2 linked regions of the Homo sapiens genome follow. The protein of the gene in region 1 purifies or fractionates together with the protein of each later gene. This does not show direct contact. Each region holds a gene or a part of one and is shown on either strand. Other genes may lie near its edges. The genes, in order: BMPR1B and PEG10.

The links.
Region 2: the proteins of BMPR1B (region 1) and PEG10 purify together in Homo sapiens (affinity purification with western blotting; one study listed by BioGRID). This does not show direct contact.

The regions. Positions count from the first base shown.
Region 1 is NC_000004.12:94,764,247-94,768,076, forward strand, and holds part of BMPR1B (bone morphogenetic protein receptor type-1B isoform b precursor), read left to right. Parts: intron 1-3,830. UniProt on the Homo sapiens protein: On ligand binding, forms a receptor complex consisting of two type II and two type I transmembrane serine/threonine kinases.
Region 2 is NC_000007.14:94,662,557-94,666,386, reverse strand, and holds part of PEG10 (retrotransposon-derived protein PEG10), read right to left. Parts: intron 3,054-3,830; coding exon 1,853-3,053; coding exon of another isoform or gene 705-1,852; 3' UTR 1-704.

The sequences.
Region 1 (3,830 bases):
GGTCACTGGGGAGCCACAGCAGAGAGTAGAGGGAGGGTGGGGAGTGAGGGTATTTATTTCCTTGGCTCCCTTTTTGTGAGATCAGTTTGGGCTGCCTGTATTCCTGCACTGAAAGTCATTGCTCTTCCCAAGGTATTCTTCTCTATATAACTCTTTCTTTCCAGATTCTGGTAATCTCGAATAACTTCCCTGCTTTTGCTAACCTGGATTTACTGCAATACCCTTGGGGTTCTTTTCCACTACTGCCCACACCCTGTTACATTGTCTGTTTATAAATAAATTCCCTCAGCTTATCAGGAGCTGTGTCAATTAAAGTCCTATTTTCTGTTGATTCAGCTTCTGAAAGCCTGCTCTTTGGAGTCTTCTTGGATTGATAAGAACAGTCGTACTCCCTTACCTGTTTTGGACATCTGCTTTCCACCCCAAATTATATGCTTCTGTCCATGAAACCTAAATTCTTATATAAATACTGTCAATCAGTTTATTGGAACATCTCGTGACTTGATAGTCTGTATATCTTCTATCCATGTGCTTTGTTTCCTTCACTCTTTCACAAATGCAGTGCATCTTTATAGATTCACTGTTTAGGACCAGGCACTGTACTAGGCATTGTGGATACAAAAAGGTGGATGTTTGCCACTATTTGGGAGGACTGGGAAGGGGGCAGGAAATAAACAACTATACATAATAGTTACAATTTAGGTTTGTGATTAGGTTTATTTAAAAAAATAAACGGTGCAGCAGTAGAGAGTAACGGGGGGACTATCATTTACTGAAGATCACAAGCAACTGAAAGGCAGGGCATGTCTAAGTGGCTCTTGTTAACCTGCATATATTATTCAGGCTCTTAATATTTGAATATTAAAAGCTTTTCCCAATGATGACACAAACAATAAATCTTGGCAGGAAAATTAGAAATTTCATATAAACCTTAAGAAAATAAAGTGCTTTATACTATTACCTAAAATTAATAGTTTTGTATATATGTATGTGTGTGTGTATCCCTTAAGAATTTTCTTATGCATTACTATGTATTTTTAAATGAAAATAAGATCATCTGTATCATTTTGTGACTTTCGTTTTGAATTTAATCATGCATCAGTAACCCCATCTACATCAATGTATGCATTCTGAAACATATTTAATGTGTAATCTGATAGTTAAAGATCACAGAGTTCCTCATCTCCCTGCTCGTTATATTTCGTAGACTATTTTAAAAGTTTGATAGACATGAAGAAGAAAAGTGGGCCAATAATCTTGCCACACAAAAACCTCTAGAAATTAAGAGGCACTTGAGAATATATCTGTTTGAATTGTGATGCCTAATAAAATTAAATGACAACAGAGAGGGGACATAATTTAATCAAATCTCTCGTTTAATAATTACATTCTAGAATTTTTTTGAGGTCTAACATAACTGTTATTTCTACTTTGTCACATAGTAAATGAAAAATTGGGGTTTGAGGTAATATGAGCTATTCGACTAATCCAGATAAGGAATTTGCATATAACAGTATGTTTTACCTGATTGCATTTGTTTTCCCAGTGTGTTTCATGGAACAGTGGTTTCGTGGAATGTTAGGTGTGCAGCCCAAGAGGGATCTTATGGATGGCAGCATAGCCTCCTGGTTAACTGTGGGAGTTTGTCTAGGTTTGAATCGTGGCTGTATCATTTCCGAGTTGTGAGACCTTGGGCAAGTTCCTGCACCTTCTGTGTTTTTGTTTCATCATCTGTAAAATGTCAATGACAATAATAGTATTTACATCATAGGGATGTTTGAGAATTAGAATTTTGATTTTTAAAGTGTTTAGAACAGTGATAGGTACATAGTAAACACAAGCGTTTGATAAGCAAGTAAATAATGAAATCTGGCAATTTCTGATGTTTTTAAATTGCAACCCTTTCTGAGCCTTTGTTGTATTAACATGCATTAATATTGACAGTCCCCAAAAGTGGTATTTGATCATGGGACTTGTATTTTTCCCTGTGTATATCATTGGATTTATGTTCCTCAGAACTATGGGAAAAAAATTGATACAAACAATTGGCTAAACATTTTCATCAGTTTATTATCTCCTGAAATGAAGGGATCATTCTTACTGCCAGGAGTTGTTCCTACAATTATCTCACCCATCATAGAACAGGAAACCGGCTCCTGTCTTTTTTTTTTTTTTTTTTAAACTCTTTTTCTTTTTAAAGATAAAAATGAATGCTTTCCTTCACTACCCAGAAAACGACTTCCAGCCCTATACCTGTGAGTATATACTGGGCCTCTGCAGGTCACTGAGCATGAGATTTACAGTGTATAATGTTTTCTAAAAAGTTACTTATTGTTATTTTTTTAATTGTAAAGAATGTTCATTGAAGTGAACTTGGGAAACATAGGGAACTCAAACAAATAAAATCAGTCACTCTTTTTTTAATTTTATTATTATTATTATTTTTTACCACACAGAAGTAGCCACCATTAGCATTTTGGGTCTTTTTTTCTTTACTGAATTGAGAGCATAATATACTGTGGTTTTGTGTCCTTCCTTTCTTTTTCACTTGACTTTATTTATATAATATTCTCAATCCAAGACATGCAGTGATTTCTGGCCTTCAGATGATTGGTAATCTACATTTCAAAAGAGCTTCCTTCCTTACCAAGTTCTGTGGCCAGAGACAATATGAAAATAAAATGGTGTATCTAGAATGAGTTTCTCCCTTATTTTAAGTATTCTCGGAAATTGGAACCACCTGGTAAGCAGTTGGCAATTCTGTTTAAAAGACCTGGAGTAGGTGACCTCAGGTTGCTTCATTTTTATGAGTCATTCCAGTCTTCTAGCCAGAAGCCAGATGGACTCAGAAGAACCCACGACCAGGCTGTTTTGGAGGCATTACTTACTCATCCTGAGTGACTGTGAATGAATTTATATAATGTTGAGATGAACGTGGAAAAATTATCCAGGGAAACCTAAATTATTCCAAAATAAATTTAGCTTAACTACTATTTAAATTTTAAATTGTAAATCTTTTCCCACCATTGCATGTTTGAGGTAGGATTCTAATGATGTACTAATATGTAGGAACAAACATTGTCTCTAAATATTTTATCTTGTCTTATAATTTTGAGTAGGAATTAATATTGAATTTATATGACAGGACATAATGTAAACAAACATGCTGTTTGTTAGGAGCTTTACTTTGTGTACTTCATACATAGTGGATGCTCTAGTGGTTAGAATAAATGTGTCAGTAAGTTGTTTTCATTCAAAAGTCCTTATTCAACAGCTTTGAATCTGCATCTCAAGATTAAATCAATCACTCCTTTAAATACTTATCGTTAACATCTGTAGCAAATGAAAATATTTAAACCCTCTCTGAAGAGAAAAACCATACTACACTGTTTAATTGAATTAAATTAGCTTTTCATGGTAACCTAGGAGCTATTTCTGGAACCAATTTGGAAAATGATCTTTGTATGCTGTGGCATTTATGTTTGATTATGTTTTTCTTAGTAATTCTCAATGGACCAGATTCACTCCTTGCTTCAGTCATCAAACTTTTGTGATTTTTGTAGGCAAATTATGTATTTCCTGCTCCATAATTATGCATATTTATGGATACTATATTCTTCCTCCTCAAATATAGAAGTTGTAAAAACTTCTTAATTCGATAACATAATAAAATTATTTAAATTTTATCATTTCACCATTCTGTGAAGTATGTTAAGACTGAGATAAACAGCCATATATAAATGAACTTCTTCCAAAAAATGTTTCATACGATTTGACTTTTGACACTTACTAAAAAAAAAAGGTATTTATAAAAATGGCAGATAATCCAA
Region 2 (3,830 bases), on another chromosome or scaffold:
AGAGCACTTTCTTTTCAGGCCTGAGATGTTTCATGTCACAAGGGTTTTTCCTGCTCCTGGGAGAACCAGTCGAGTTGCTGCTCCTTGAGAATTAACAGAACCATGGAAATGGAGTTTGAAGACGGTGAAGTTTCTAAGGGTGCAGCGAGAGGATCACGGAAGCCTTTCCACACTGCACCGATAATTTTGGCTTCCTTAATAAGGCCTCAGTCCTCCAGTGATTTAAAAAGAGGGTACCGAAACCGCAAGAAAAGTCATGTCCTCCTCCTCCTCGTCTCCCCCTCCATAAAGAAATCAGCATTTCCTGCGTTTGTATCAGCTTCTCTGTAAATGTTAAACAGCAAATTTGGCAGCCTATAATTTAGATGGTGATGGAGGTTTTGGCAGGTAAAACCCAGACTTCCAGGACTGGCTGGAAAGTAAACTTATTAATTATTTTAGTTAGATTGGCAGTCAAGGTGGAAAAATGAGAGATCATTTATTGGCAAATACTCTGTTGCTCTCAGAAAATGTTGAAGGTCTTTTGGTGCTTTAGGATGTGTGCCAGTCCAGAGTGGCCCTAACCTTCCATAGCCGTTTCAGAGAGGATGTGCCTCAGGTGGCCTGAAGATACAGTAGCCTAAAATTTAGCACACAGTCACTGATTGAGAAGCTGAACAGGAATAAATTTTGAGGGCAGAGATCCTGAAGGACATGACAGGTATTTACAGGGTACTGTAAGATGGAGGCGGCGGCGGTGGTGGTGGTGGAGGCGGCGGCTGTGGCGGCGGGTACTGTGGTACCGGAGGCTGGCGGTACCAGTGTGGATTCCAAGTGATCATCACAGGTACATATAGTGATCTTCCTTGTCCGTCTCGTCCCACTGGGTACCAGGCGAATCCTACTGGGTAGGTCGGGTACGCGGCATATGTGGGGTATGTTTGGTATCCAGGTATTTGAGGTACGAATTCAGTGTACGTTGCCAGGTGTGCTTGGTCTTCTAAATTTGGAATAGATAGGCGAGGATACTGATTCTGGATAGTAAAATTGTTTGGAGCTCGGCAATCATAAGAAACTTGCAGTTTCCACCCCCTCTTCACCTGGAGAACTTGGGCTCCATTAGGTGCAATCGTTGGAGTAATTAGCCCATCTTTTACATTTCTTGCCACAAAATCTCGAAGAGCTGCCATTTCAGGTTCGGACAGTGAATACACATGTCCACTGGGAATACTGTGTGCTCCAGGTATCATTTCTATGTGAGGGTCAACCAGGCGGTGATCTGGGTAGACGTGCTCATCTACTGGAGTGTACACATTCTGGACATAGTAATACCTCACTGGTTGGTAAACTCTGTATCCATCTACTGGATAATAGAGTGGCGGTTGTGGTGCTGGTGGTGGGAGCGATGGTGGTATTGGAGAATACATCCGGCAGTGGTAGCGGCAGTATTCAGAATCAAAGACGATAGATCGAGTGCTCCATGTGATATTGGGATCATGTGTGCTCAGCCAGCGAACCCCTAGGACGACAGGGAAGAATGGAGACTGAGTCACATCAAATGACAGCACCTCTCGGTGATCTCCCAGGTCAACTATCAGGTCGTGAGTTTCGTGGACAACTGGGCCCGATGCTATGGGGCGCCCATCAATTGCTTCCACAAGTATTGGCCAGTCCTTGATTCTTAGAGGAATTCCATTTTGAGCAACATATTCGTGATCAATGAAGTTGCCAGAAGCACCAGAATCGATCATGGCTCGGACGAACAGGGTGTGTCTGCCCGGAAGATGAATCTGGAGCATCACTTGCAAGTGTGGAGATGAGGCATCATCTTGTGGGGACCTTATTATTTCTGGCCCGGTCGCTGAAGGTCCCTCTACAGCGGGGCCGGGGAGTTTCCCGCCGGCGAAGACTTTGAGGCCTTGGCAGGACAATTGTCAGCGTAGTGACCTCCTGTTCCACAGTAGAGGCACAGGTTCAGCTTTCTGCGTCTTTCTTTTTCTTCCTGCGTCAGGCGCATGCGGGCACCTCCCACCGGCTCGGTTGGATCTACCTGGTGGTGGCTTGCAATGTGAGGCAACACCAGCGCCCGGGGTGGCGAGCGTGGCTTGCGAGCTGCAGCAGCCCTGGCCAGCCTTCTCTCAATGTGAATGCACTGCCCAATCAGAGCAGACAGCGACTTGGCGACCTCGAGGTGGGAGAGCTCCTCCTGAATGTGGTCGCTGAGGCCCTCGTGGTACTGGTCAATCAGCGCAGGCTCGTTCCAATCCAGGTCCTGGGCAATCATCTGGAAAGCATTGGAGTAGTCGATGACAGACCCCATGCCTTGGCGCAGGCGTCTGATCTTGCGTTTGGCAACCTCTCGCCTCTGAGGGTCTTCAAAGACATGCTTCATTTCCATCATGAAAGCTGGGTAGTTGTGCATCAGGTAGTGGGAGCGCTCCAGCTTTGCTGAGGCCCAACGGGCAGCACGGCCGGTCATCATGCTTGTCACGAAGCAGACACGGACACGATCAACTGAGAAATCCCTGGTGCTCTTTTCCATGAAGATCTGGCACTGGGCCATGAAAGGAGCCAGCATGTCTGGGTTGCCATCGAACTTCTCTGGGAGGTCTTCTGGGCACTCTTCCTCTATTGGAGGGGGTGGGGCAGCAGCTGCTGCAGCACCGCGGAGCTCGATGTCATCATCCTCATCCTCAGGGGTGGGTTCCACTTGCTCTCGAAGGGTGGTGTTCTCCTCTGTGAGCTTCTGCACCTGGCTCTGCAGGTTGTTGTTCTCCTCCGACTGCTTCATGACCTTCTCTCTTAAGTTGTTGATCTCTTCAGAGAGCTCGTCCCTTCTTCGTTCGGTCATGTTGGGGACACACGCACTCTTATGGCCGGTGTGCTTGGAGTTGTTGTTGTTGTTGTTGTTGGGGGGAGGGGGAGGAGGAGGAGGTGGGCAGTCGGGACCCAGGGTGACGGTTGGGGTGGGAGGAGACCTCCCAGCTGTAGCTTCACTTCTGTGGGGATGGAGGCCTGGATCCTGGCCCCCTCTTCCACTCCTTCTTTTTTTTGTTTTCAAAACCCGCTTATTTCTGTAAATAAAGATAAATGTATGTATAAATCCAACTTATACATTCAAAGCAGCAAAAGCAGACACAAAGGATTTGGTATTTAAATTATCCCTTGCTCTACGTGCTTACATTAATAATTAGTGAACAAAGAAAATAAACTCTCAAGAGAAAGTTAGTAATCAGCACCATATATAACAAAAAGCAAAGTACTTTTTGATGTTCAAATGACCTTGTCTTCCTCAAAGGCCACCTGTTCATTATGATTCAACAATACATTATCAACAGCATGCTTACCTTTATAAACTATAAAAGAATGTTGAAACCCTCTAAACAAGTAGTTTTGTATTCAAACACAGCAAGAAACTTCAAGGCAAACATGGATACAAAATCAATTATGCAAATTAAAGCCAAAATAATAACTTTTGTTATTAAAGAAGCCAGGCCAAAAATAGTTAATACTGCAACTAATAGAATCTCATTAAAGCAAGAAGGGAGTATTAAAATCACAATGCATGTATTCATCAGCCCTGTGGGCAGGAGGGTACTCTGGCCAACTGTCACAACCCTATTCCACTGCCACCGAGAAGGTAACTGGTTATCAAATCAAACAACCACCACCACAAAAACCACAGGACTGCCTAAATTACTTTTCTGACCATAATTTAAATCCCCAAAGAAAATTCTCTATGGGACAGAAATGGCACTAAGCAGCAATATGTGTATGTCAGTTTCCTTTGTCATTATGCAGTCATTCAAGAAATAATAATTGATGCCTCCTAGGAAAAGCTATAAAATGGG